3 linked regions of the Homo sapiens genome follow. The protein of the gene in region 2 purifies or fractionates together with the protein of the main gene of each other region. This does not show direct contact. Each region holds a gene or a part of one and is shown on either strand. Other genes may lie near its edges. The genes, in order: PSG9, SMAD9 and DSG4.

What was found.
Region 1: the proteins of SMAD9 (region 2) and PSG9 purify together in Homo sapiens (affinity purification with mass spectrometry; 3 studies listed by BioGRID and IntAct, with this or other methods). This does not show direct contact.
Region 3: the proteins of SMAD9 (region 2) and DSG4 purify together in Homo sapiens (affinity purification with mass spectrometry; 3 studies listed by BioGRID and IntAct, with this or other methods). This does not show direct contact.

Annotation. Positions count from the first base shown.
Region 1 is NC_000019.10:43,251,037-43,261,223, reverse strand, and holds the end of PSG9 (pregnancy-specific beta-1-glycoprotein 9 isoform 1 precursor), read left to right. Parts: intron 1-2,088; coding exon 2,089-2,367; intron 2,368-2,767; coding exon 2,768-3,022; coding exon of another isoform or gene 3,023-3,267; exon of another isoform or gene 3,268-4,114; intron 4,115-6,303; coding exon of another isoform or gene 6,304-6,371; exon of another isoform or gene 6,372-7,540; intron 7,541-7,577; coding exon 7,578-7,615; 3' UTR 7,616-7,942; downstream 7,943-10,187. UniProt on the Homo sapiens protein: Binds to the small latent transforming growth factor-beta complex, consisting of the N-terminal TGFB1 latency-associated peptide (LAP) and the mature form of TGFB1, thereby leading to the activation of TGFB1.
Region 2 is NC_000013.11:36,845,662-36,856,099, forward strand, and holds part of SMAD9 (mothers against decapentaplegic homolog 9), read right to left. Parts: intron 8,015-10,438; coding exon 7,758-8,014; intron 6,857-7,757; coding exon of another isoform or gene 6,677-6,856; exon of another isoform or gene 3,159-6,676; coding exon 3,015-3,158; 3' UTR 1-3,014. UniProt on the Homo sapiens protein: Transcriptional modulator activated by BMP (bone morphogenetic proteins) type 1 receptor kinase. SMAD9 is a receptor-regulated SMAD (R-SMAD).
Region 3 is NC_000018.10:31,385,551-31,395,988, reverse strand, and holds part of DSG4 (desmoglein-4 isoform 2 preproprotein), read right to left. Parts: intron 9,302-10,438; coding exon 9,170-9,301; intron 7,623-9,169; coding exon 7,467-7,622; intron 7,116-7,466; coding exon 6,971-7,115; intron 5,334-6,970; coding exon 5,167-5,333; intron 4,912-5,166; coding exon 4,777-4,911; intron 3,835-4,776; coding exon 3,649-3,834; intron 1-3,648.

The sequences.
Region 1 (10,187 bases), on a different chromosome or scaffold from region 2:
GAGGATCATAGTCCCTGGTAAGTGGGTCCCTGGAGCACTGGCACTATGTTTTCCAGTGAAGTCTATCTAGCTGTCAGGGAACAGCCACCTGCCCTCTGCAAAGGGAGAGGGAAAATAAAAAACCCTGGATAGGGAATATGTTTCTGCTCCAAAACCACCAGCTTTTGCCTGTCCCTTCACTCTTTCTAGATCATTCTTTAGACTATACACTAACAATGAACAATCTGAAAGGAAGTTAAGGAAAGGATTTCAATTCACATTAACATCAAAAGGAATAAAATATTTTGGAATAAGTTTAACCAAAAAGGTCAAATGATTATACCCTGAAAACTACAAAACATTGCTGAAAGAAATTAAAGATGATATCAATATATGGAAAGACATTTCATTTTCATGGATTGGAAGAATCAATATTGTTAGAAAGACAATACTACCCAATTGAGTTGCAGATTCAATGCAACCCCTACCAGAATCCCAGTAACATTTTTTGCAGAATTAGAAAACTCTGTCCTAAATCTGACCTGACAGGATCTTATTAATGACTGCCACAACACAAACACTGAGAAAAAGATGCAACCAGAAAAGGTGGAAAGTTCTGATGACAAAGAAAATAGCAATCAGCCTTTCTCACATCCCAAAGCTTTAAAAAATATATGAGTGCAGCATGGCCAGTATGGAATTGACCAAAAACTAATCATCAAGCTAGAAAAGTGGTGAGAGAAAAAAAAAGGGCAAGAATATCTTTGGCTTATCACCTCCCACTTTTGCCTACTAATCTGATGCTGAAAAGAAATGCTCACTGAAGCATTTTAGATTTTGAATCTTTCAGATTTGGGATGCTAAACCAGTAAGTATATGACAAATATTTCAGAATAAAAAAATGTCAGAAATCCAAAACACTTTTTGTCCTAAGACTTATGCATAAGAAATACTCAATCTGTGTGAACTATAGGCATCAAGCTCTACAGCAGATCTCTAGAACCTCCCCACCTTGCATAACTGAAACTGCACACCCATGAACAATTTCTGATTCTCCCCACTCCCAGCTCCTGGCAACCAGCAGTCTCTTCTCATATTCACTCTGGAATCCACTTACATGAGGTCCCTAGAGTAGTCGAACCCAGGGGATCAGAGAGTAGAATGTCCAATGAAAGAAAATATTTGCAAAACTTCTCTCCAAGTTTGTCTCATATCCATCAAACACACATGGTCCATGAGGACCAGATTTCCAGCAGTTCATTCCCACACTTTCCACCAGTCAGTTCTGCATTTGCAAATGTCCACATGTATTTCTGGAAAGATCCACATGGTCCTCCTCTGCCCTCTGCAGAAGGAGAGGAAACTTAAAGAACCCAGGACAGAGAACATGGTTCTGCTCCAAAGCCACCAGCTCTTGCCTGTCGCCTTCACTCTTTCTAGATCATTCCTTGCACTCTGCTCTATGTTTAGAGGTCACTGGTTCAAGTAAGTCATCATGAAACACCTGCAAAAAACTGCCCCACCTTGAGCCTCCACTGCCTGATGACTGAACTGACCTCCAGGCTTGACTCTGGTCTCCTCTGTGTTATTTCTGCTGAAACATCCAGTCCCAGGCCAGGCTGCTAAGTATCTTCAGGGTCTCAGGACAATGGGAAGTCCCATTATTACTCATCTCTAGAACATCCTTAGAAATGGAAGCTGCAGAGAAATCACATATAGGGGGGCAAAGTAGGATGGAATTTGGAAGGGGCCCAGCAGTTGCACATTCCAGGTAAGGAACCCAAGGTGAGCCAGCCAGTCAACTGATTAGGGAGGGACTGGGAGGGGTACCAGGGGCTGTGACTCCCACTGATGTGTCTGTCCATGACCCAACACTGCTGCTCAATTGACACTTGAGAAAGTCTGTGCTTCCCTAAGACAGAGCAGGCGGCCTCACAGTCTTTGAGCCCTTAGATCATCATGCATCTGTCTTGTGACACACGCACCAGCTATTGGCTTTCAAGGACTCGGGTGGGCTGAGAGGTGGGAGATGCCAACTCTGATTGAAGTATGCCTGTGGAGGAATCAAAGGTGCCACACAGGACAATCTTCTCTCTGTTATCCACACAGCGAAGCTGCCCATCCCCTACATCACCATCAACAACTTAAACCCCAGGGAGAATAAGGATGTCTTAGCCTTCACCTGTGAACCTAAGAGTGAGAACTACACCTACATTTGGTGGCTAAACGGTCAGAGCCTCCCCGTCAGTCCCGGGGTAAAGCGACCCATTGAAAACAGGATACTCATTCTACCCAGTGTCACGAGAAATGAAACAGGACCCTATCAATGTGAAATACGGGACCGATATGGTGGCCTCCGCAGTAACCCAGTCATCCTAAATGTCCTCTGTGAGTATCTTTTGTTCCTCTGTGGGCCAGGACACCAGCTTAAGTCCAAACGACCAGATGCCAGGCCTCTCAGTCTCTCTCCGGTCCAAGTATAGACACCTTTACTTCTAGACATCCGAGGTGGCCATGACTCCCTGCCCTGGGAAAACCTGGGTAGGCACAGCCTTAACCAAGAATATAAGGGGAGTGGATGCTCTTGTCATGGGAGACTTGGGGCCCACAGCTTGTGATGGGAGAAACAGGTGAATACCTCAGGCTTCAGCTCAGTGAACATAGAGGGACTTTGGCTGGGACTTGAGGGTGTGTCTTGGCTCAGAGGGTCACTGTGTCCCTTTAAGAGACCAGGAACATCCCCTTCCCTCGAATGACATCACGTGTGGCTTTATTCTCTTTCCTCCAGATGGTCCAGACCTCCCCAGAATTTACCCTTCATTCACCTATTACCGTTCAGGAGAAAACCTCGACTTGTCCTGCTTCACGGAATCTAACCCACCGGCAGAGTATTTTTGGACAATTAATGGGAAGTTTCAGCAATCAGGACAAAAGCTCTTTATCCCCCAAATTACTAGAAATCATAGCGGGCTCTATGCTTGCTCTGTTCATAACTCAGCCACTGGCAAGGAAATCTCCAAATCCATGACAGTCAAAGTCTCTGGTAAGTGGATCCCAGCATCCTTGGCAGTAGGGTTTTATGTGGAGTCTATCTGGCTTTCAGAGAAGAGTCAGGAAAACATTTTTATTCCCAGCCTGTGTCCCATGGGCACAAGCAAATCCCAAATTCTCCTCCTGAACCCTCCCAATTTGTCTCTACAGACTCTCTTCTCCTTGTTTTTCTGTTTTCTTATGGCTGACCTTGTGTCTGGCCTGAAAAAGGTAGGGAGGGGGCTTTATCAGCCCTGAGCCCTATGTGGTAGAAGAGGCTTCAGAGAGGGACAAGAAGGAGAGTCCTCAAGATCAAGTTGCTTCTCGCTGTCACCGACACATCCCCTTCTGCCACGTCTTTTTTTTCTTGTACCTATTCCATGAGCTACAAGGGACAGCTGAGGCTTTGAAACAAGCTCACACTTTTCCCCCAGATGAGAGGAGGAAGCCCCTTGGGTGAGGGAGGAGCAGCTCAGACTCTGCTTCCTGCTCTGCTCCGGGCTCCTCTGGTGACTGGCCCTGCCTCACTCAACCTGGGGTGGGACTAGCGTGTGTGTAGAAAGGGCCCTGGTGGCCTGTCCTGAATTTGGCTAAATTGAGCTGCCAGTTGAAGCCAAGCCTCCCCCGGGCCAGGCTGCAGGGAAATAAGAAGAGAGGGAGCCTCAGGGCAGACTCCTGAGCTGCGTCCTGGCTCTGAAGTCACCAGCTGTATGAGGCTTTGGGCACAGCACGTGGGACACAGCACGGAGGACAGTGACTGATGCAGAGCTGGAGGAATAGGGAGATTCACCGTTGGGGTTATTCATGGCAGGAAAGGGGCAGTGCCAAAAAGTGTGTAATTATAGAGAGGGTAAGACTACCAGACACTTTATATATATCTAATATAAGACTTACCATTAACTATTTCTATGTGTGCAATTTAGTGTTGTGTAACCATCACACTATCCATTTCCAGAACTTTTTCCTCTTACCATATTAAACCTCTGTACCCAATAAACAGTAACTCTCACTCCTTCTTCCCCTAACCCTTAGCACCCATCATTCTACTTTGTCTCTATGTAACTGGCTATTCTAACTATCTTTTATAAATGGAATTACATAATAATTATCCTTTTGTGTCTGGTTTATTTCAGTTAGCATAATATCTTCAAGGTTCATCCATTTTGCATGATGTATTGGAATTTTATTCCTTGTTAAGGTTGAATAACATTTCAATGTATAGATACACCTCATTTGCCTACCCACTTATCTTTCAATGGACTTTTCAGTTGTTTCCATTTTTTCGCTAGTGTGAGTAATGCTTCTCTGAACATCAGTGTACAAATATTTGTTCAAATTTCTTTCAATTCTATGGGGAGTATGTCCAGAAGTGGAATTGCTGGATCAAATGGTAATTTATTGTTTAATTTTTTGAGAAACAGCCACACCACTTTTTACAGTGGCTATAACATTTCCCATTCCCATCAGCAATGCACTAGAGCTCCAATTTTTCCATCTACTTGCAAACACCTGTTGTTTTGTGTTGTTGTCATTGTTGTTGTTTATCAAAGCCATCCTAAATTGTGTGAGGTGGTGTAGCATTGTGGGTTTGATTTGCATATCTCCAGGTATTCGTGATGCTGAGGAACTTTGCATGGGCTTATTGGATATTTGTATATCTCCCTTGGATAAAACTCTATTTTAATCCTTTGTTCATTTTTTAATTGGGTTTTTGGATGTTTGTTGTTGTTGACTTGTAGCTTTTCATGTATTCTGGAAATGAATTTCTTATCACACATATAATTTGCAAATATTTTTATCATTTCGTGGGTTGCCTTTTTACTTTCTTGATAATGTTCTTCGACATATAAAAGCTTTGATTTTTGTGAAGTCCGATTTATCCATTTTATTTGTTGCCTATGCTTTTGTTGTTACAACCAAGAAATCATTGGGAAATCCAGTATCATGAAGCTTTTCTTCTAAGAGTTGTGTAGTTTTTCTCTTACATTTAGATCTTTGATCTATTGTGGGTTAATTTTTGTACATGGTGTTAGGTAAAGGTTCCAATCTTCTTGCCCTTGGATATCCAGCTTTCCCAATATCCTTTGGTGAGAACACTGTCCCTTCCCCATTGTAAATGCTGAAATCAGGAAGTGTGAGTCCTCCAGCTTCATTCTTCCTCTTCAAAGCTGTGTGTCTATTTAGAGTCATGAGATACAATATAAATTTTAGGACAGATTTTTCTTTTTCTGCAAAAATGCCACTGAGAATCTGATAGGAATTGTATTGAATCTGCAGTCACTTTGGGTAGCACTGTTCTCCTAACAATATTGAGTCTTCCAATTCATGAAAACAAAATGTCTTTCAATTTATTGATGTCATCTTTCATTTCTTTCAGCAATATTTTGTAGATTTCAGGTATAATCATTTCACCTCTTTGATTAAACTTATTCCTAAATATTTTATTCTTTTTGATGTTAATATAAATTGAAATTTTTTTCTTAATTTCCCTTCAGATTGTTCATGGTTAGTGTATTGAAATACAACAGATGTTTGAATGTTGATTTTGTATTGTGCAACATTACTGAATTTATTTATTAATTCTAATTAGGTTTGTTCAATCTTTAGGATTTTCTACATATAAGTTCAAGTTATCTATAAACAGAAATAATTTTACTCCTTCCTTCCAATTTGAATGTCTTTTTTTCAATTCTTGCCTAATTTTTCTGACTAGACCTTTCAATACTACGTTGAATAAAAGTGTCAAAAGCAGGCATCCTTGTCTTGTTACTGCTCATACAGGGAAAGCTTTCAGTCTTTCTCCATTGAGTATGATGCTAGCATTGGGTTTTTCACATATTGCCTTTATGTTGAGGTGGTTTCCTTCCATTCTTAGGATGTTTTCATTATGAAAAAATATTGAATTCATCAAATGCTTTTATTGATTCAATCTTATTACTGATTATAGTTATACTCATATTTTTGTGTGGTTCTAGGAGTTGGTCCATTTCATCTAGGTTATCCAATTTATTGGCATACAATTATTTATAGTACTTTCATCATCATTATTTTATTAGAATTGGTAGTAATCGCTTCATTTTTCTTTCTTTCTTTCTTTTTTTTTTTTTTTGGAAGAGAGAGAGACAGGCTCTCACTCTGTAGGCCAGCCCAGGATGGAATACAGTGGTGTGATTACGGCTCACTGCAGCCTTAACCTCCTGGGCTCAAGCAATTCTCCTTCTTCAGCCTCCCAAGATGCTAGGACTACAGGTGCATGTCACCATGCCCAGCTAATTTTTTTTTATTTTTTTGTAGAGACAGCATCTCCCCAGGTTACCTATGCTGGTCCAAACACCTGGTCTCAAGAAATCCTTCTGCTGTGACCTCCCAAAGTGCTAGGATTAAAACATGACCCACCATGCTCAGAGTCCATTTTCATTTCTGATTTGAGTAATTTTAAACTTTTCTCTTTTTTTCTTAGTCAATCTAGTTAATGGTTGTCAATTTTGTTGATTTTATTTTGAAGAATCAACTTTTGGTTTCATTAATTTCCTCTATTCTGTTTCCATTCTCCATTTTATGTATATCCACTCTAATCTTTATTATTTCCCTCATTCACTGTGCTTGGGTTTAGTTTGTTCTTCTTTCATATCCTGAAGTATTAAAGTAGGTTGTTGACCTGAGATCTTTCTTCTTTTTTAATGTAAGAGTTTACAGTTATAAATTTCTTGCACAAGACTCAACTTCTCTGAACCTCTGATTCCTTACCTGAAAATTGCAATGAGAGTACTTTCTTCTTACCATTGTTTTAAAGGTTTAATGCAGTCAATGAAACAATATGCCACACACAGCGGAACCAATGTCAGCTGCTATATTACTACCATCATCATTAGCCTTGAGGTCAAATAGTCCTAGAATCAAATCTCAGATCCACCTGTCACTAGCCATATGACACCAGGAAAGTTTTTACACCATGCTAAGCTTCTGTCTTTTCATCGGCAAAATGGAAATAATGTCTATGTGACAGGGTTATTGTGTGGCTTAAATGAGATACAGGTAAAGTATTGAGCACAGGGCCTGGCACATAGGAAGTGCACCTCAACAGTACCTACCTTTTTCCATATATATGGAAAAAGAGGTAACACATAAAACACTAGGACATGGTTACTGACTACTTGTGGGAGAGAAAAAAAAAGCTAAGGGCAAAGAATCAAGTCTGGTATGTTAGTTTTTACCAACTGAGATGCATCCAAGATGGGATTAGACATACAAGGTAATTTATCAGGGAAGACACCTGTGAGGGAATGTGGAGCAGGCATGAAGGTAGTATGGGAGAACCCACAGAACACTATGCAGAGCTGATTCCTGTGAAAAAGAAAGAGAAAGAAGTTTTAGGTACCAATGCAGTTCTAAGAGTATTTGCAAGGCTGATGGGGAATCCTCCAACCAGCCACCCATTAGAGTTAAATAGAGCCTCAGAGAACTAGGCTTGCTTTCACACCCTTCCTGGGAGCCTGTAGGAAAGAAGCTTTCTGTGTAAAGGAGGTAGTGAATTTGAAATGCACTGACCTGGGCCTTCTGTCAATCAGGTCCCTGCCATGGAGACCTGACAGAGTCTCAGTCATGACTGCAACAACTGAGACACTGAGAAAAAGAACAGGCTGATACCTTCATGAAATTCAAGACAAAGAAGAAAAAAACTCAATGTTATTGGACTAAATAATCAAAAGGATAATGTTTTCATAATTTTTTATTGGAAAATGTGCTGATTCTTTGAATGTTTTATTCTCCAGATTTATGAACTTTTTTTCTTCAGCAATTGGTAAAGTATACTTTTGTAAACAAAAATTGAAATATTTGCTTTTGCTGTCTATCTGAATGCCCCAGAATTGTGAAACTATTCATGAGTATTCATAGGTTTATGGTAATAAAGTTATTTGCACATGTTCCGTAAGAATCTGCTCTCTTTATAACAGGACACATTTGAAAACATTGGTTATATTACCAAGGCTTTGACTGGGATGTTATATTTGAGAATATACATAGAATAAACCCATAGGGAATGCAGGCAAAGTCTGAAGTGGGCCTTGGTTTGGCTTCCTAGTCTCAAGAGGTTTTTGGAAGTTTCATCTGAGATTCTTATTAAAAACTTCTAGCAAAGAGAAGTTTAAAAAGAGCCTCTATGGTCCATTGCTACTCTTGCCGCACTTAGGTAAAAAATCTGGGCAAGTTCGGTGAGACTCAACCTATTTTGCAAGCAAATTCATCTTATTGGAATTATCTTTGGTAAAAATAGAGACTCCGATAGAGAGAAAAACTAGCTGAAAAGAAAAACTGTAGTACACCTGTTACCAGATTGAACCACTGTTCATTATCTTTGAGTATTTATAATCCACTGGTAGACTGGACTGGACCCTGAATTCTTTTAGTTCTTCCAATTCAGTTTTCTCCAATGAAATCATTAAGAACAAGAGCGGCTCTGTTCCTGAAGCCATATAAGGTGGAGGTGGACAACTCAATGTAAATTTCATGGGAAAACCCTCGTGTTTGAGGTGGGGGCCACTAAGAGCTCACCAAATGTTCAACACCATAACTTAGAGACACTCAAACTGCAAACCACGACAAGCTGATGACTTTACACTGTGGACAGCTTTTCTCAAGATGTCAGAACAAGACTATCAGTCATGATGAGACTCTTACCTCTCTTAATTTGTCTTTGCTTTTGCCTGTCTCCTTTGCTTCCCAGAATAATGCTGTACTTAGGATTTCACCAGAAATAGCCTCTGAGAGTAAGTTAACAGTGTCAGATATATCATGTCAACCACACTTCGTTTTTTTTTTTTTAAGATGGAGTTTCGCTCTTGTTGCCCATGCTGGAGTGCAATGGCACAATCTTGGCTCACAGCAACCTCCACCTCCTGGGTTCAAGTGATTCTCCTGCTTCAGCCTCCCCAGTAGCTGGGATTACAGGCATGCACCACCATGCCCAGCTAATTTTGTATTTTCAGTAGAGACAGGATTTCTCCATGTTGGTCAGGCTGTTCTCGAACTCCTGACCTCAGATGATCTGCATGCCTCAGCCTCCCAAAGTGCTGGGATTACAGGCATGAGCCACCGCACCCAGCCCACACATTTTTACATAACAAGACATCCTTTAGTCCACACAAAGGCTGACGTTAGCTGCATCTGTAACACAACTTTTTCCTCAAATGTATGGAGTTTTTTTTAGGCTTCCACTTCTATACTTGCCTATTCTCACTCCCTGTTTTAATTTAACATAGACATGCAATGCTAGATAATAGAATTGTTCTCTACCAGCTGGACAGCGGGGAGTCTGTGCAGTTTCTGACACTTCTTGTTGCACATGGATAAATACATCGGGTATTATAGAGACTCAGTTGTAAAAATCAATAAATGTGCTGCCTGGTTAAAATGACTAGACTCTTCTGGCTTCTTCTTTGATCTATCCTATTGTAGTTGGTTTGCATCTTGCCTAAGGTGCATATTCCAAACTCTTGATATTTTCCTCCTGATAGTCATACTGGTATTCTCCCTCATGTGGTGGAATCTACAGATGTTTTTATTTCTGTGCAAATATTTGTGTGCAGCCATTCTTCAAATATCAAACGGTTTCTCTTGTGCTGGAATTACAAAAACTCAAAGAAATGTGTGATTTATGGGCTGGGTGCAGTGGCTCACATCTGTAATCCCAGCACTTTGGGAGGCCAAGGCAGGCAGATCACAAGGTCAGGAGTTCAAGATCAGCCTGATCAATATGGTGAAACCCTGTCTCTACTAAAAATACAAAAATTAGCCAGGCATGGTGGCGTGCACCTGCAGTCCTGTAGGGAGACCCCCAGAAACTACTGCTACAGAATAAAAGATGAAATGCTCTTGATTATTGTAAATACAAAATTGCACGCAGGATTGTGTAAACACAATGACAGGTTGGGCTGCGAGAATGAGCCTACAGCACGGGATGTGCTTCTGTTACATGGATGGGAGATAGAATTATGAGTTTAGAACATAGATTACAAATGCAACCTGATTGGAACACTTCTGATTTTTGTAAAACTCTGTTCCAATATAAAGAGTCTGGTCACAATCGGGAATCAGTAATATGCCATTTACAAGGAAGTGAAGATAATTTAAGTTTAGACATAAGCAAGCTGAAAGAACAGATTTTTGAAGCTTCTCAA
Region 2 (10,438 bases):
TGCTAAATGAGCCCATTTAGCAGCCTGAAATCAAATACTGCATTTATTTTTTGAAACTCTTGGTAGCAAAAGAAAAAGCTGATTAAAATATGATTGTGTTACAATGACTAAAGGGTTAACTTCTCATTAATTCTAAATTCTTCAAAATGTACAAGCATCATAATAAAGGCTTTTGATGAGACATGACTGGTGATGATCATATGTGCCAATTTAATAATTTATTTGTCACAGAAAATTCAGATTCACTGCAATATTGTGTTCTGGCTTCCCAAAGCTGCAGGGAAATACAAGTTTTTTGTTTCTTGATTTTTGTTTAGAGACAGGGTGTCACTTTGTCACCCAGGCTAGAATGAAGTTGTATGATCATAGTTCACTACAGCCCCAAACTCCTGGGCTCAGATGATCCTCCCGCCTTGGCCTCCCAAAGTGCTGGGACTATAGGAATGAGCCACTGCATCCAGATTTTTTTTTTGTTTTTAATGTCATTTATGAGCCACCAGTTTAGATTAATTCTGTAAAGGTGTAAGATTACCAGAGGAAGCCGGGCGCAGTGGCTCACGCCTGTAATCCCAGCACTTTGGGAGGCTGAGGCGGGCGGATCACAAGGTCAAGAGATAGAGACCATTCTGGCTACCATGGTGAAACCCCGTCTCTACTAAAAATATAAAAATTAGCTGGGCGTGGTAGCCTGTAGTCCCAACTACTTGGGAGGCTGAGGCAGGAGAATCACTCGAACCCGGGAGGCAGAGGTTGCAGTGAGCCAAGATCACGCCACTGCACTCTGGCCTGGTGACACAGCGAGACTCCATCTCAAAAAAAAAAAAAAAAAAAAAAAGATTACCAGAGGATAAGTTAGATAGCTGGTAGAGAGATCACGAAAGCTATGTTTGATCTCTGGAGCAAAAACTGTGTTGAAGTTCTCCCATGGAATGGTTCCCATACAAGATTCACCATATTAATGCCTTTTCTAAGAAAAGGGGACATGGAGAATTATTGGAAAACAGGGAAGAAAGGGGAGGAAAAAAAACAACTTTGAGACATGGAAGAAAAGTAGCATTTATACAAGGAATCCATTACCTGACTTTGCAGAAGAGTAAGGAAATAATTTCAAAACAGAGATAAGAAATCAATCACATTCTTTCAAGCAAAAGATGATAGATTACATTATTTTGTTTTGTTTTAAAAGTTCTGAAACATGAAGATGTCTGTACAAACAGATTCACTATTAGGTTCTCGGCTCCCTGAGGGCTGGGACTGTCTCTTATTTACATTTGATTCTACAGTACCTAACATTGTACCTGACACCCATAGGTAGGTGCACAATACATAGTTGATGAACCAATAAACTACAGATTTTTCTATACACTACATGGGCCATATATTACATTTTTCAATGTAAAATGTAATAATTCTTTTCTATGTGTATATATGAAAGTTTCTATTAGCTAACACTAGTAACTGTAAGAGGTGACAGTAGTAGCTCAATCATATATCTTTCTCACATGATCATTTCTACCTTGAATACAATTTAATTAGAAAAACTACCATGTGCACTAATGCTAGAAAGAGTTGAGATAAAATGTATAAATGAAGAAACTTCTTGGATTACTGAAGTGCTGTCTGTTACAAGCATAACTGCCATCTTAAATTGTACATTTTTAAAGAGGGTGTGAAATATTTTTCCAAGCAATGCAGTGTTTAGTGCATGGCAAGTATATATATGAAAGTACCTAGAAATTTGGGGGATTTTCCTCCCTCATCTAAAGTAAAATAAGAACAGGTTTTTAATATTGTGTATATTTTTAAAAGATGTCTTATTATTCAGTACCACTGTTCCCCAGAAATTGCAGATGATTATGAAATTATTATCACTTTCCTTGGGAATTTATTTCCAGGTTAGATAATCACTAGACACTAGGTTAAATAACTCATTGATCCAATAATGTGTCTAGATTTTCTCAAAGTCTTTACTGTTGCTTTAGTGATCTGCAAAGAGTTAATATTTGCCAAGAGGCAGGAAAACGTGGCGAAAGAGTGCCCTTCCCAGGAGACTGGAACGTGGGAAATGAGAAAGTGTAAGTCGACGTGTGATGCTTTTCTCCAACCTTTGGTTTCACCTGCTTCTTGACACAGGACTGAAACACAAGCTATTCTGGCACGCTGCGCAGACTCAAAGTTTGCAGGACTGCCTGACACGAACAACCAGCACGACAGGAACCTGGTCTCCTCTGTGGAAAGCAGGAGTCTCCCTGGGTGGCTGGCTCTTGGACCAAGTTCTGGTCTTATCTTGCAATCTGGGAAACAGCATTTCATGCTATTTTCATATTTATTTTCCCATATTAGACTCTGTTTTTACAGTGGTAGACTGAGGGAACATGACTTTTGGCTTCACAGTTTTTTTTCTTTTCCGATCACAGTTTGTTTAAAATGTACCACTGAATATGAGCACAGGAGCCCAGCTATAGGTATGTCAACCTTAGAAATAAAGTTTCTATGGCCTATCTCATTAATTCATTGTACAAGTTTGTTGTTTTTTTTTTCTTGCCAACAGCACTAAAAGTGACATCATTTAAACTGTAGGGGTTTCACTGCTTTGTTTCATCTGAGTGATATTTGCTTTAGTGCTGCTAATACCTGACTTTTGCTGTATAAACAGTTTCAATGTTTCTGTGAGGCCACACAACATGCTTTATAATGACACGGCTGACTAAAGCTGTCTTTTATTCTGCTAACACCCTTCAAATACTGTTGACAATATCGCCTCTCAAGTGTTTCCTCCCACAAAATCTGCTGCTTATAGCACAGGCACCAAAGTCCTGCTTTTCCAATTGCACTGTACTGGCATCAGGTTAACTAGAAAGCACAAAACAAACGGTGATTAAAAAAAATAAGAACAGTATACATTCTATGTATTTACACATGTTTTTAGAAACTTCAGTTGCAAATCTGAAATGATACAAGCCACTCCCTGCAATAGCCTCTATCCTATGGAAATGCAGCTTAAGACATGACTGTTAAGACACTGAAGAAATGGGGTTATGTGGAGAGCCCATCTGAGTCAGAACTTTGTCCAGCCACTGCAGTGGCCCATGAAGATGAATCTCAATCCAGCAGGGGGTGCTGGTGACATCCTGGCGATGATACTCAGCACCCCAACCCTGAAAAACAAGAAAGGAGCTGAGTGATGGTGCCACACTTACACTCAGCCTCCAGAGCCCCAGGCAGAGCTCAGCGGGGCACAGAGCCCACACCCCAGCGTAGCTCCTGAGACCTGAGAGGGAGAGAACATGGCCTCTACCTTCCTGTAAACACAGGTCAACTCTCACACCAACCAGATGCCTTCAGATGAATCCAAATCAGTGCATTCCCTCAGGGTTCACAACTGAATACTCGGATCTAGAGAGGTTCTGGCACTCCAGTCACACGGGAAGCACTGAAAAATCATTTTCCCTTCCACAAAGGAAGAAACTTGACCTTTTGTTCACCCCTTCATGCCCAGGACAGTGTCTTGCACAAAATGGTTACTGCAGACCAGTGACTGGACCTGAAAGTGGTAAAGACAGAACTGGAAGGCGCTCTTGGTTTTTCAGGGCTCATTATCAAAGCTTGCTTATTCTCTCTCTCTCTCTCTCTCTAGTTCAACTGGCAATTTCCCTTTTATCACCATTCAAAGGAGAGACAGTTAAAATTTTTTTTTTTAATTTGCATATTTTTCTCTATATGTTATATATCAATGAAAGGATATTTAAAAATGAAGGGAGATCACAGCCAAGTAAATCAGTTCTGTGACTGGGAGCAGTGATTCTCTGTAGAGTTTTTTAAAACTTGGATTTCAACACAACCATGCTGCCTGATCACATTTTACTTTCATGACTGAGAACCTCAAGTGGACCTGTGATGTCCCCGGCAGTCACAACCCACCCCCCAGTCCCTTCTCTCATGTCCCCCTCCTAGGTGATCGCTCCTCCCCACTAAAACCTGCAACCCCTTTTTCCCTGTCCATACCTGCAACTGATATTTATTTTGTATTTTAATGAGAAAAATGAATACATCAGAAATAAGTTTCCACAGGACCTGCATCCACATACTTGGCCTTTCTACCTCTTACCACAGATTAATTATTTGTGTTTCCAAATAAGCTGGTCCACCCATTAATGCACTCTCAGACCTGCCTTCCCAGAGACATCATTCCAGCAAATCTTCCCCTTCTCTCCTGCAATCTTTTGCGTCTACTATATCATTCCCGTCAACATATGAACACACTGAAATGTCTTCCACCTTCAAGATACTTCTCCACCCCCCACCAGCTACTGCCCTATGTTTTTATCCCATTTCTGGCAAAAACCCTCAGAAGAGTCATCCATACTAGCCATCTCAATTTGTCTCCTTCCATTCTCTCTTAAATCCATTCTGATCATCATCTCACCCCAGCCGCCAACAAAACTTTTCTTGTCAAGATCAAAAAAGGCCTTCATATTGTTAAAATGAATGATCAGCTCTCAGCCTTTGTGTTATGTGGGCAGCATTTGATTTAGTTCATCACATCCTCTCATCAATGCACTGTCTTTTCTCGGCTTCCAAAGCACCACACTTCTTGGTCTTATTACTACCTCACTGGTTGGTCTTTCTCAGTTTTCTTTGCTGATTCTGTCCCTTCTGTCCCATCTTTAAATGTTGAAGTGTCCCAGGGCTCAGTCCTAGAGCCCCCTTTCTTATTTATTTATTTTAATTTTTTTGAGATGGAGTCTGGCTCTGTCACCCAGGCTGGAGTGCAATGGTGCGATCTCAGCTCACTGCAACCTCTGCCTCCGAGGTTCAAGCGATTCTCCTGCCTAAGCCTCCCAAGTGCTGAGATTACAGGCACGCGCCACCACGCCTGGCTAATTTTTGTATTTTTAGTAGAGATGGGGTTTTGCCATGTTGGCCAGGCTAGTCTTGAACTCCTGACCTCAAGCAATCCACCCACCTTAGCCTCCCAAAGTGCTGGGATTACAGGCATGAGCCACCACGCCCGGCTCTTCTCAGTTTAAACTCAAACCTTTGGTGTTCTCATCCACACTTAGGGAGTTAAATACGGTCCCTTTGCAGACAATTCCCAAATTTGTATTTCAAGCCCAAACCTCTCTCCCCGAATCCAGACTCTTATATCGAACTGGCTACTCAGCAACTCCACTTGAATGCAACGGACATCTCAATTACACCTGCGTCTTCTCCATCTTGATTGAAGGCAACTAACTTCATCTTCCTCTTTTTCTCCCACGCCTGATCCGCCTTCACAATTCAGAATCCTTCCACTTCTCACAGCTGTACTGGATCCCTCCAGGTGGGGGCGACTCTCACCTGACTATTACTATAGCCTCCTAAGTGGTTTCCCTACTTGCAACCTTGCCTGTATAATATCTATCCTCCACACAGCAGGCAGGGCGATCCTTTAAGAATAGAAGTTAGATCATGAAAATGCTCTGCTCTGATCCCTGCAAAAGCTCGCCACCTCCTTACAGTCACCGCTGAACTCGTAGCAGAGGTTCAGGAGGCCTTGCTATGGTTCCCTGCGGCTGCTCTCATCTCACTTCCCCTGCTCATTAGGCCCCAGCCACACTGGCCTGCCTGCTCTTCAGAGTTTCCAGGTGTATGCTGTTGCCTTGCTCTTCCCTCTTCTTCTGCTCTTCCTCCAGGGGTCCCTGGGCCTAGCTCCATGTCTCCTTCCAGTCTCTGCTGACCTGTCACCTTTTCAATGAGGCCCACCCTCATGTGCAGATGACTCCACTGCCCCCGTGCTCCAATTCCCTTCACCCTGCCCCCAGACTTTCTCTTTCCATCCTTCTTCTGTGTTTTGGCTGTTGTTTATTATCCATCTCTCCTTCCTAGAATATTGGTTCCCTGAGGTCAGAGATCTGTGAGTAAACATTGGCATGTCCCACGTGCCTGGCCTGCACATGGCAGGTGCTCAATAAACATTTGTTGACTGACTAAGTCCTAGAATCAGTAAAAATCAGAGCTGAAAGAAACCTTAAAGAGATCTGATCCATCAGCCCAGTGGTAGCTACAGCTGCTCATCTCAAATGTTAAAAAAAAATGATCTATAGTTATATTTACTATGTATTTATTTTAAAAGTTCCTGCAGTATTAGGAACAGTTTGTCTTCTGTGTCAATTGTGTAGCTTTATGAATGTAAATGCTGCCTATCTGAGAAATGTATCTAGTTATTAGGAAAATCAGATTTCTATATAAGCTTATATTTAATCAGAGTGAAATAATTACCTATGAGATATTGGCATTTCATCCTAATTTTAAAAACACAGACCCGGAAAAAAAAAAAACTGTATGATTCAAATGATGCCCTCTGCCGTTTCTAAAGCAACAGAACATTTGAAAAGATTTCGAAGTTATTTGTTAATATAACTTTATAATATATGCTTTCAAAACACTAAATTTGAATGAAACTGCTTTGTCACCATGAAAGAGAAATAATTTCAAGCAGCTGTTTTTTAAAATTGGAAACTATATTGTTCTTACTTTTTAAATAATTACTAAAGTGATAATAAAAACATAATTTGAGTATAGAAAAATTATTTGTCATGGTAATTTTAAAGTGCTAATAAAATTTACTTTGAAAAAAATGCCTGGAACAAGCCATGCTGATTCCCTGGATGGAATCATGGCAGTAAGAAAACTGTCACACATACCCCGATACTTTGATAAGCCCATATTTTGAAATACTAGACTCATTTGCGAGTACTTTGCAACAGACAAAATAGCAGGTGATGAAACTGAAGGCTTTCACTTCCATATACAAACCCAGTTGTCTTTCCTTCCCACTAAGAAACTTCCTTGGTTCTCCAGCCTTCATAGCAACCTTAATAAGATTCGATATGAGAAATTCAACAAATATTCATCAACAGAACATATACTGCTCTCTGAATTAATCACACCCGTTTCTATTCCAAATTGTTTATACCTTTATAACACTACTTAGTTTATTATCTTGTATTAGAACCAACCCTGCCTATTTTTGTAGCTTATTCATAAATATTATCTCCTCCATGTGCCTGTATGCTTTCTAAGAGTAAGGAGAGTATCTTACTGAATTCAGATAAATTCACCAACATTCACTGAGTGATAACAGTGCTTGGCAATTGGAAGGATGGAAAAAATCTCTGTTGCACTAGTCCTGTAAAATTACTGTTGTTACTTTATCATCTGCATTAAAAACAATCAAATAGCCACCTTGTTTTTCCTCAAAAGTAATGTGTAACAATTTTCATATAATTGCTAAACAAGACAGTTTATACTCAAAGAGGAACTCCTCCTAAAAACAATAGAATTCAAAAAAATTGGTTTTGGGCTGGGCGCGGTGGCTCACGCCTGTAATCCCAGCACTTTGGGAGGCCAAGATGGGAGGATCACAAGGTCAGGAGTTCAAGACCACTCTGGCCAATATGGTGAAACCCTGTCTCTACTAAAAATACAGAAATCAGCCAAGCGTGGTGGTGCGTGCCTGTAGTCCCAGCTACCCGGGAGGCTGAGGTAGGAAAATCGCTTGAACCCGGGAGGCAGAGGTTGCAGTGAGCCAAGATCATGCCACTGCACTCCAGCCTGTGTGACAGAGTGAAACTCCGTCTCAAAAAATAATAATAATAATAAATTGGTTTTGTCTATCAGAATTGACCGCACAACTGCCTGCCACATCAGTCAGGGTGCTTTTTTGTTTTGTTTTTCACTGAACATTTTATAACGTGATAGCAAGCACTCCTTACCTTAACAAAACTCATCCGGATAGTACACATCTTGGTCAGTTCATACACGACTTCAAAGCCGTGGTGAACTGACTGGGCCAGGAGCTGAGCGAAGAGCTGGTTGTTGAAGACCTTGAGGCTGCAGCCGCTGGGGATCTTGCAGACGGTAGCTGGGTGGAAGCCGTGTTGATAGTTGCAGTTCCGGCTCTGCACAAAGATGCTGCTGTCACTCACGCACTCGGCATACACCTCTCCCCCGACGTAGTACAAGTGCACACCTGCAGACACAAAAACACAGCCTTCCTTCACATGCCCTTTCATAGCGTGCCTCTCCCACTGATTCCTGAAACCCTAGGAGATGTGACTCTCCCATCAGGTTGTCAGATCACTGATCAGATGAATGAGATGTGTGACCTAAATGCCGCTTAGTTTAATGATAATCTGTGCTTTTTCCACAAATCCATTTAAAAGTGGATCGCAGCTGGGTGCGGTGGCTCACGCCTGTAATCCCAGCACTTTGGAAGCCCGACGTGGGCAGATCATTTGAGGTCGGGAGTTCAAGACTAGCCTGGCCAACACAGTGAAACCCCTTCTCTACTAAAAATACAAAAATTAACCAGGCATGGTGGTGGGCACCTGTAATCCCAGCTACTCGGGAGGCTCAGGCAGGAGAATTGCTTGAACCTGGGAGGCAGAGGTTGCAGTGAGCCAAGGTAGCGCCACTGAACTCCAGCCTGGGTGACAGAGCAAGATGTCATCTCAAAAAAATAAATAAATAAAAATAAAAAAATAAAAGTGGATTGCAACCCATGTTAACAATCACTCCCAAGAACCAGTCAGTAAGGTCTCATATACTATTCCTCCCATCATTCCTGTTTATTTGTTCCAAAAATAAGGTTTTATAATATTAGAAATGAAGTGAATATATCACACAAAAAAATCAAGTAATCCTTCATTGTACATACACAAATTTTATTTTTTTTTTTTTGAGACGGAGTCTCGCTCTGTCGCCTAGGCTGGAGTGCAGTGGCACGATTTCAGCTCACTGCAACCTCTGCCTCCCGGGCTCAGGTGATTCTCCTGTCTCAGCCTCCTGAGTAGCTAGGATTACAGGTGCCCGCCAACACAGCTGGCTAATTTTTGTTTTTTAGTAGAGACGGGGTTTCACCATGTTGGCCAGGCCAGGCTAGTCTCAAACTCCCAACCTCAAGTAATCCACCCGCCTCGGCCTCCCAAAGTGCTGGGATTACAGGCATGAGCCACTGCACCCAGCCCACAAATTTTAAAATTTAAAACTGGACACAGTTAATATCATGAAAATGTAACTTAAGTGCACATATTAAACCTACCTCAGAGGAAACAATAAAAGACACTTAAAAAATTTACCAATACTTATAAATCTGTTTCTCTTAACAAATACCTCAGAGATCTATTTCAATTAAATTTGTCATCCACTAATATAAATCATATAAATAATGTCTATTTTGATTTGTGAAGTGAAATTTCTACATTTTCAGATACAGTAATATAAAAACTCATAAGCAAAATATAGCCTACATCACTTTATCTAATATTCTTGGAATTAAAGTTCAAAAGAGCATCTTGAGGCTGGGTGCTCACACCTGCAATCCCAGCACTTTAGGAGGTCAAGGTAGGTGAATCACTTGAGATCAGGAGCTCAAGTCTGGCCTGGCCAACATGGTGAAACCCTGTCTCTACTAAAAAATACAAAAATTAAGTGGACATGGGGACACACGCTTGTAATCCCAGCTACTTGGGAGGCGGAGGCTGCAGTGAGCGAAGATCACGCCACTACTGCACTCCAGACTGGGCGACTGAGTGAGAGTCCATCTCAAAAAAAAAAAAAAAAAAAAAAAAGAAAAGCATCCTGAGAATGTTGCTGCTCATGCTAATTTCCATTCCAAATTAAATTTTAGTTGATCCTTTCCCTCTAAATGTCTGGGTTTGAGATTTAATATAAATGTATAGCGAGGGACTGATGTTAGAAAAAAATGAAGAAATTCTAGTCTAGTGAATATTAAATATCAGAACAATTTTACTCCCACTTTTGATGGGGAAAAAAAAGTCTCCAGCACTAGAAGTCAATGTGATTATACATATGATCACTATGCAGTTATAAGGTGTTTGTAGAAACAATCCAGAATATACTTATATATTTGGGGTCTAATTGTGAAACTTTTAAAGAACAGAACTCACAGCTTCCAGGGCTGCTCAGGGCCTCGTGTGCATGACTCTGAATCTAGGAAACGTTACTGACATAGCTGCTGGGAGTTTCTTTGTCAGGTCCTAAGTAGCACTTGAGGCAGTTCTGCATTATATGTGATTACATCCCACCATATTTATTGTTTCCTTTTCCCTTAATAAAATTTTAGAAAAGAACAATTTTGAGTAGTATGTATCCCAACCACATCACTCTGAAGAAACTGAGCCAGGGTCGCACAGCTAAAGCACAGCCCTGGATATCCAGTCCACGACTGTCCTGTCACTGCCTCTCCTCTTCCTCAGTCAGAGACTGGCTCCCCTTCTCCGCTTCCCTCAGCCTTCCTCTCCCTCCTCTATCTCATCGCTGTTACCCACTCTCCTGAATGGCCTTGGGCCCTAACCCCAGGGCCTAGGTGGTGGTGCCAGGGGGCAGAAGGATGGTCCTAACTGGCTGGGAGAGTTACTTGGCTGGACCCTCA
Region 3 (10,438 bases), on a different chromosome or scaffold from region 2:
ATCTTATTTGCCTTCATGTCCTTAACACATAGCAATTCTCAATAAATCCTTATTTTTCTTCTGCCTCCCTGGTCCGCGTTCAAGTGATTTTCATGCCTCAGCCCTCCCAAGTAACTGGAATTACAGGTGACCGCCCCACACCCATCTTTCGCTAGAGACTTGGTTTCACCCCGTTGTCCAGGCTGGTCTCGAACTCCTGGACTCAAGTGACCCTCCCGCCTTGGCCTCCCAAAGTGCTGGGATTACAGGCACGAGCCACCTTAAATCCTTTGAATTGAGTCTTTGTAATTTCCTCAGACTAAGAGAAGGGTTATATAAAGCTTAGTCAAAAGTCCAGTTTCCTCAGGGTTAAGGGGTATCCCGAATGAAAATGGAGAAGGTGTAAGAGGACATTAGTAACCTCATTCCAGATGTATCTGGAATGAGAGGCTGACCACCAGCTGTTGAAAATGTCAAACATGGGAAAATTACGCTTATGTTCTCTAAAATAGTTCTTTTGGCTAGGTAGTAATACAAACATCAAGGTTTAAAATTTCATTTTAATTAGCCTTTCTCCATTACTTTGGTATTTTTAAGCACATTTTTTCTTACTCTTTTTAAGAGATTTGGAAAGTTATCATTCAGAAAAAAATAGATAGGGCTTTGTATATACAGCATCCAAATTACCTTGACAAATTTTTCATGAAATTGATATTTCAATAGCTTTTTTTTTTTTTTAGCAATTAAGTATATCTTTAAAAAAGTTGTTATCACAGAAGGCACATTACATAAGTCAGATAGTACATTGCCTGCATTGTTAATTTTTTTCATATTTATAATTGTATGCAGAAGTTACGAATGATGCAATCAAGTCCAGTGACTTCTGTTTGGATGATATCTATGCCATTAGTTTCAGGTAAATAGTATCATCAATACTATTCTCAAATTTTGTGAGTCTCTACTATCTTTTGGACACTGGACCAGGTGCTGGGGGTAGAAAGATATTTAGATCAGGTTCTTTATGCACAAAATTCTTCTATTATTTTAGTAGGTTGGGAGACAGAACAAAAGCAAAGAGCAGTTACATATTATGAGATAATATACAAAGTTAGTCACTAAGATGATAAGAACATAGGTAAGAATTGCATGTTATGTCTAGCTCTTGATTTTTAACCAGGATGCAAGGTTTAACAAATTCTGATCCCTGGAAGAAAAACTTGACTAAATATTCAGAATTTGATATGGTGGGAGGTGACCTCTTGTTCCTCTATTCCTCTTTGTATTGTATTTGGCAATGTCTCCTATACCCATTCCTTTTTTTTTTTTTTTCCATTTTTACTGCCATTGCCTTAGATCAGATGCTTAGTACCTCAGAACTTAATTAATATCATAATAATTTTTATAACTGTGGTCTTTTCAGAGTTGAACTCATGTTGTTAAGTTTCACTTTTGTTGCCGAGGCTGGAGTGCAATGGCACAATCTCAGCTCACTGCAACCTCCGCCTCCCGGGTTCAAGCGATTCTCCTGCCTCAGCCTCCCGAGTAGTTGGGATTACAGACATGTGTCACCACACCTGGCTAATTTTGTATTTTTAGTAGAGATGGGGTTTCTCCATGTTGGTCAGGCTGGTCTCAAACTCCCGACTTCAGGTGATCTGCCCGCCTTGGCCTCCCAAAGTGCTGGGATTACAGACGTGAGCCACTTTGCCAGGCCGGTGTTATTGTTATTTTAGAAAATATCCCAAAGCTTTCCTTGGTCTATAAGTAGGAATTGAAAAACTTTTGGTTAAGGGCCAGATAGTAAATGTTCTAGGTTTTAGGGGTCATATCATACAGAGTTTCTATCTCAAGTATTCATATCAGCAACTTGAGTGTGGAAACAGCCACAGAAAATACGTAAATGAATGTATGTGGTTGTATTCCAATAAAACTATTTATGAAACAGGGGACAGGTGAGGACCTCTGGATCATAGTTTGCTGACCTCTGGCCCAAAGCAATGTTTTCCAAACAGAAAGTCCATGATATACTCTTTGAGTCCTTGTGTTCACTTAAGAAATTATAAAATTGTGTGTATTCATTTGGATGACAATCTTATATATAAATATTTTTCATAATTTTGGTGGCCAGCTCTTAAGTTAATATACCATATGATTTCAGTGTGTATGGTTGTGCTTTGGTGGTAAAGTAGTAATACTAAAATTGCTCAGATACTTGAGAAAGAAAAGCGAAAGACCCAATGAATAAACGATATGTTTGCTTCCAGAAGGCTAAATGGCTTCCTAATATGCTATCTGAAAAAACTTCACAGTAACTTGATGATATGGTTTGGATGTCTGTCACCCACAAATCTCATCTTTAAATGTGATTCCCAAAGTTGGAGGTGGGGCCTGGTGAGGGGTGATCGGGCAGATCCCTCACGAATGGTTTACCACCATAGCCTTGGTGATAAATGAGTTTTTGCGAGATCTGGTTGTTTACAGGAGTCTAGGACCTCCCCCTTCTCTCTTCTGCTACTGCCCTTGTCATGTGATGCACTGGCTCCCCCTTTGCCTTCCACAATGATTGTAAGATTCCTGAGGCCCTCACTGGAAGGACATGTTGGCACTTTGCTTCCTGTATGGCCTGCAAAATGGTGATTCAACTGAACCTCTTTTCTTTATAAATTACCCAGTCTCAGCTATTACTTTATGGTAACACAAAAAGAGCCTTATGTGCTTGAATAGAGAAAAATAGTAACAGAACTGAATAATCACACTGTAAATTCCACAATCACACTGTGTAGTAAGCTAAAAATATGTGTGTACATATATGTCTTAATATATATTTTCCTGGCTATAAGTGTTGTTTATGTTGTTAGCAGCAATTTCCTTTGTTAAAAAATAACAATTTCCCTCATTACAGTAATGTTAATCTGAATCTTATTGGTTTGTGGTTTTATTCGTTTCTAATTATAAATTTTTCAGTTTTATCATTGTCTGTGAATTAAAAGCAAGTAATTAAAGAAAAATTAATCTATAGAAAAAAATCAAAGCCGGTATTTCAGTATGCAAGGTTCTCAGCAGATCGATTTCAGCTTCACTTCTCTGATCTGACTTCTGATTACTTCCCTACTTGATGCCCCACTACAGCCCCACGGGGTTGCTCACCATGCCCTGAACTTGCTTCATGTTTTCTCACTCTGTGTTTGTTTATTTTATTACCCACATTAGCAATCTTAGCTATAACATCTTGCTTAAGCCTTATTTCCTGCATGAAATCTTTTCAGACAAATCTAGCTCAGAAGGATCTCACCATTTCTTATCTCTTTCATTATTTCATATTCCACTCCCTTGGCAATTAATTATGTTTTATATCATGACATCTGTATTATTTATTGCACTGTGAACTCCCATATATCTTCTAATTTGGGGTTGCTTACCTTATCTTCACAACTAGATATTGGACACTGTCAGAACAAAACAGTCTTCATATTTTTCTTGGTAATAAGTTTTGTGTTGCTAGCTAGGAGACTCAGACTGACATAGCAGTTACTTAGGACCCTTGATATAAACAATATTCAAAGTTATGAAGTACTTTTTTTTAAAGGCAGATTCTGTCTCTAAGGTCATTTAAAACTTCTTTGGAATAAAATATTTTGGAAGAAAATATTGCAGATCCTTATACTGTACCTTGACAACTTTCAAAATGCCTTCATTGGTTTGTGGATCTGTTTGAATATCGAACCAATTCCCATCATTTCCAGAGAGAATTAAATATTGAGCCAACCAGTTATCAGTGCCTTCTTCATCAAGATCAATTGCTTGTAATCGTATCAGTTCCGAACTTAAACAATTCTCTTCAATACTGGCTGAGTACTAAAATGCAAGGATCAATTTTGTAGTCAATGAATTTTCAAAAGAAGAAACGTACTTAAAACACATTATTATTATTTAAAATACTAACAACAAACTATGTCGATGATTTTTGCACCATTATTAAATGCCCATAGTCCAATCAGGAGAATAAGAATAAAATGATTATAAGATAATAAAACTGACATTCATGTGCTGTATGTAAAATCAAGGTCAAATTAGCACTTTGTTCCTTTCTCTTTTATTTATTTATTTATTTTTGCTTATTGTTAATTTTCTTTATTTATTCTTTTCTTTTAGATAGAGGACCAGATTTTTTTCTGTAAAGGGCTGAATAGTAAATATATTAGATATTGTGGGCCAGAGAATTGGTGTTGCAACCCCTCACGTCTGCTGTTGCAGCACAAAGCCCCCATAGACAATATGTAAAGGCATGAGGACAGCTATGCTCTCCAATAACACGTTTTTTGTTTTGTTTTTTTGTTTTTTTTTTTAAACCGAAACAGACAGCAAGCCAGATTTGGCCCTGCTAGTGTGGATTTTATGCTTCTTTATGCTTAGAGATGAAAATGGAAGTTGAGACTGTCTGGGACTCTAGTAGAATTCATTCAGCAAATCATGAGGCATATACAAAAACATTAATGTTGCTATGTTATTCCCAGAGTTAGATCAACAGATTTCTGTGTTTCTGTGAATAGAGTATACAGAATAGATAGTTCGTTGCTTTCACAGAGAAGGCTTGTTTGGAGTAGTGAGTCAAAGACAAACATACAATTTGAAGGTATATTAGTATACATAAGAAATTCCAAAGTTTCTATAACAAAGTTGAGTATGTCCACACATAGGACAGAACCAGGCTCATGAGCCAGCATGATTGATTATTGACACTTATGCAAATTGATTATTGACACTTATGGAAAAAGGAAGATAAGAATACAAACTTACTGAAGTTTTCTCTAAGGTGGGGAAATTATCGTTGACGTCTAAAACCTTGATTCTACAGTCACACTCAGAAGACAGTCCATCTGCAGCTCCATCCCGATCTGAGCCTCTCACAACCAGGTTGTACATACTGTGTTGCTTAATCAAGATGAAAAAGAACGTAAGACTTAGGTTTTGTCTTGAATAGAATCCAATGCATTCAATGCCATTATTTCTCTACTCTTTTATTTACATATCCAATGAAATTTATATAATTGAGCTTTTAATTTTTATTAAAAATGGATTATTTTTCTTCCCTCCTTTATATTGGAGTAAGGGTACACATGGATCATTTTATCTTTGTCTTTTCAAAATTGAATTTTTTAGTTCTTGTTCATTCACAGAAGGCTTTACCTCTCTGTCCAAGAAACTGGACATGGTGCAGACTTCTCCAGTGTACCTATTCAGAATGAACATGGGTGCACCTGATGGCTCCTGAGAGACGATCTTGTAGGCAATTTTAGAATTCAGATGATTTTCTTCATCTGCATCTGTGGCACATAACTTTACTACCAATGTATCTAGAAATAGAAATGGAGGTGGAGAATGGTTGGGACTCTTAGAATAAATTCAGCAAATCATTAGGCATAAGAAGACAGAGTGGTTGGCCTTCTCCTGAATTCTCTCTGTTTGAGTTTTCCATGGGAATATAGTACCATAACTTTCAGCTCTACCAGTGATTAAAAAAAATGTGGTTTGCTTTATAAAACCCTTTACTGTTTTAAAAGTACTTGCACTCCTTAAATGATTAAATACTAAATTAGTGGCTAAACATAGTTCTCTTTAAAGTACGAAAAAGAAGTTCAATAGATTCTTTATCATATAGCTGAATAAACAGATTTTTATCTGTTTTATTTTTTGCCATGGTCTTGTGAAATCATTTAAAAATGCTTAATTAAGGAAAATTATAGTTTAATTAAATGCAACATTATAATTATGTATTGAACACCTATATTCTTAATTGCCACTTTTCCAGAAAGCAGATAATTACTCTTGGTTGCATTGGAAGATAGCATTTTACCAAACAGTCACAAATTTATAATTATTGAAAAGAAGACTTGTCCATAGCAATATAAGAAGTTCCTAATTACTCATAGGTAGAAAGAACAGGTATCTTAGGCAAATCCCCAAGGATGTCAATCTACAGGACAGACTTTTCAGAATTGTCAGGTCCCTGATGTTCTTTTGCTTCCTAGGCAGGGAGACTTGGTTGTGGGTTTCACCTTCTCTTCCTTCACCAGTGTTGTTTTGAGGTGTGTTGATGAGGAAGCAAAGATGGACTTCGGAGTCTCTCTTTGTGTTGGCTCTCCTAGGCAAAATCTCTTTGCCTCTCTATGGGAGGACTATCCTAGTTCAAAAAAAAATTTTGTGTTTATCTGCCTTTTTTCCTGAAATTTATTTTTCCTATTATTTCCCCCCAAATTTGTTTAGAGGTATATGGGCAGACATAGATTTGAAAGGGAAAGGGACAACAGGGGTTTGGGGAACAAACTGATATTCATGTGCTGTATGTAAAATCAAGGTCAGAAGGCAAAGGGAGAGGAGAGATAGGAAAGTAGCCATATAAGAAAAGCATAAGAGTAGGAAGGAAAGAAGTTCAGGAGAATTAATATAAAGGAAAGACAGAGGGTATTAGAACTGGAAATGGAATTAAGTGGAATGGAAAGAAATGAAAGAAAATGAGAGAATAGAATGTAGTTTGCTATGTAGTCTGTGAAGATCAATGATTACCCTTAGTGATTGATCTGATGGGTACAATTGCGTGTGCTTCCACCATCACGCTCTACCTGGTGTGGGTCAGCCAAACATTTTGAGTAAGAGACCAGAACAGAGCCTTCTTAAACATTCCTGGTTTATTCCTCAGTTTGCTCGCTTGGATTTAGTTCTTCATGAGCCCAGTAGCAATCTTTAAGCAAGGTGCTAAGCACCTGCTAAATCCCTGTAGGGACCTTCCGCAAGTAAGAAGATATTTTATTTTATCATTTTAGACATGATTTCTTTTTCTAGCTCAGTTATAAATTAAAATATGTGGGGTTTATTCAAAATACAAGTGTGGCTTTTTCTGTCCTTTACATTTCCTGTATGTCAGTCCTCTAAAGCTTTTGACCAAGAGAAGTAGATATGCTGTGACGTAGAGAAGGAATGTCATTCTACTTACTGGCATCACTATTTTCTTCAATGCTGGCTGTGTATACACTTTGCGAAAAGACTGGAGCGTTATCATTTATGTCCATAACTTTGACTCTAAGCTCAAGAGGCCTTTCTAAATCTTCACCCCGTGAATTCAGAGCCCGGCAATAGATCTGTGGAAAATTGGAAAAAAGCCATCTTTTTCCACCAAAGGAATTTTAGTAACATGCTTGAAAATATATCAGAAAATAGGCAAAGAAACAATTTTTTCCAGTGAATTCAGACTGTAGTACAGTCAAATAATTTAAATATGATCAGGACACTTGACTACATGTACATGCAACATACCAGAGAATCCTGAACTATAAACTTTTATTTTCACACTCTTTCCATTCCTTCAAGTCTTCTATTTGGGTTCAGTCTGCCATGTTTTATCAAAAGTAATCCATTATCTTAAGATAATATTTTTTGAAAAAGGGAAGAAAACTAATATGAACAAATCAAAACATATGGCTATGACTTACCAAGAAAAGTGGAGTTATTTCTCTGTCTACCACTGAAGTGATGTTAATTTCCCCAGTGCGAGGATTAATGGTGAATACCCCATATGGTGGTCGATCAATCCCTACTCCAGAAATCCGGTATGTTATCTTCTGGTTCGATTCGCAGTCTGATCGAATCTATAAGAAAAATAGCTAGGATTGTGATCCAGTTTAGAGCAGATAATGCTTAAGAGTGTAGTGGAATAAGAAGGGAGTGGGTTTCTTTACCAAATGGGCTTTGGATTGAAACCTGACACCATGACTTAGTCCTGTGTGACCCTGGAAAATTTACTTAACTTTGCCCAGATCAGCTTACAGTGGGGATAATATCACACAGATTTGTTGTGGGAATTACATGAGGTAATGTGTATAACATACACACTTGGTGCTAGGTTTGTTGTTAATAACACATTGTTCAATTCTCTGATTTTTTAGCATACGCAGAAATAGCTTCACAAAAGAAATTACAACATTTACTATTTTTTAAAAATAACTTGTGTCATATTAATAAGTATCCTACCTAAGCTGGAGTCTGAGATTTAGTCAAAATGGTAGATAAGTTGAGAATATCAGAAAACTATAATGGTTAGAGATATTTGTAATAATTTTATAAATGTAAACATACTGCATCACTTTTCTGCCAAATAGATTTTATGGCAAATATTCTGCCACACAGATTTTGCTTTAGTAGCTTTATTACCTATTGCTGATAAATTTAAACTGAAACAATTTTGAAATCTCACCTATATACTAACGATAAGAGCATTCAGTAAAATAGTAAGATTTTTTACCCACACATTCACAGTCAAATAAAGACTGCTGGAAATAGAACTTTGGTTAGCTTAACTCTAATCCAAAGGCCCTTTTTACATAGAAGAAAACTCAAGAACCTCCCAAAATGCAGAGAAAAAGAAAAGAATATGCAATATAAGTGGAATAACATAAAGCAATTACTGAGTTGAATGGAAATAATAATTTAAAAGCGTCCCTCCAATTTGAAAACATCTGAGAGAGAATACATCTGTTTTCTTGAGCTGAGGTTGTATCTGTAACACCACTGCTGATGCTTACTATGTTTTTAATATAAAGCTGGAAGGAGGGAATTCTGCAGATCACTTTACTGTTCAGGATCAAGATGTCCAGAAAGAGTGAATGAAGCTATTAATGTGGATCCCATCCTTCCTGGATCAATTTATTACACATTCTTTAACTCTCCTTCCTTTTCAGTAGGCATTATTTGTGAAAGTCTTATAAGACTCTCTTATTTTCTGGATGTAGAGATCTGGTGGGAACTTTTGATACTATCCTTACTTTCCTGGAGTTAATTCATCTAGTGCAGTAAACTTGGCTTGACTTTCTGGAGGGCCAGGCTTCAGACTGTCACTATGTGAATACGTTTCCTATGACATTGACAGGCAATAATGAGCAGTACACAAATGGATGAACAAAGCCCAGTTGTGCTGGAGATCCAGCCCTTTCTTCTAGAATCACTTGCCATTGACTGCCTGCCCCACGTCAGCCTCCCTGCACATGATATTCAAATCAGTGGCTCAGCAACTGGAGCAAATGACCACATTCTGTCTTCTTAAATAACTGTGGAGCAGTGAAGCCTGCAAATCTTGGAGATATTTGAAAGCTTCCCTGCTCTGCAAAAGCATTTGTCATCAGATTGCTTCATCACTTACTTTGGCAATGGGGTTCCTCTTCGAGTTGTCCTCTCCTTCTCGACAGGCTGCGGCAAACTTGATCCACTCCCGCTTTTGTCTTCTGACTGTTTGCCATTTTGTAGTGCCATTTTCAATGTCAAATTCCTTCACCTTAAGCAAAAATGGTTCAGGTGTCTTACAGTGTGAGAACAATTTTACTTAGAAAGGACATTTATTTAATATTGTAAGGTGCATTTAGAAGAAACAGTGATATTGAATTTGAAGAACAGAGAATGTTTTCACCAATTCACAACTCTGGATAGATAGATAGCTTGGTTACCCCTGGCTGCCACTTCTTTTGGAATCATCTTGGTTCCAATTATTTGATTCTAGTGAAACAAATTTAATTAGCTACTTGAGGAGCTCATGATGTGCCATACTGTATAAGTTGTGCAGTTTTCCTTTTCTCAATCTATCTTCACCATATAGGAGCCTTGCCTATCTCACCCTTCATTGAGCTTTCACCAGAATTTACAGACTGCAGAGTTTAAAGATTATCATTGTTCCATGTATGCACATCCCATATAACATAAAAGTTGTGCTGGTGAGTCGTGCTCACCTAAAAGAGAGAAGAGCATTTTTCTCTTCTGTTGATAAGGACACCACTGTGGCTAAGCACCCAAGTATATTTTTGCAGAATTAGAAACATATTATTAATATTGGAGGAATTGATGATTCCTCCAATAATCCCATGGACACCTATAAGGCTTTGCAATGCTGTCATTTGTATCTGTGCTTGCTATATGGTTTTTCTTTCGTAGCCTTAAGTTGCTGCTATTGATGTATACTTAAGAATTTCATACTATTAATGAGATTAGAAATGTCACTACATGTGCAAGCCTATTTGTATACATGCATAAACTATATATATGCACGTATTTATTTTTGTAAGTCCTAATGTACCCCCTGAAACACAGGTGATTATAAGTTTACTTAGGCTAAGCTTCATTTAATTACCACTTTGGGGGAAGGAGGTGTTCCACTGAATGAAGCATATATTACAACCAGAGTATTTACATTATTTCTCCATTTTGATACGACTTACTGAAATGTACCACCTATTCCCTATTTCACCAAAAAGATGAGAAAACTTTATTTTTTCCAATGATTTGAGGGGATCATAAGGAAAATTTAACTATTATAATAAAATAAAGCTCTGCCAGAGATAGAGGACAGCAGCTCTATTTCCTGAGTTCTACTCTAAATGGCACTAGATTATATGTTTTCCATTTAGTTGGGATTATACAA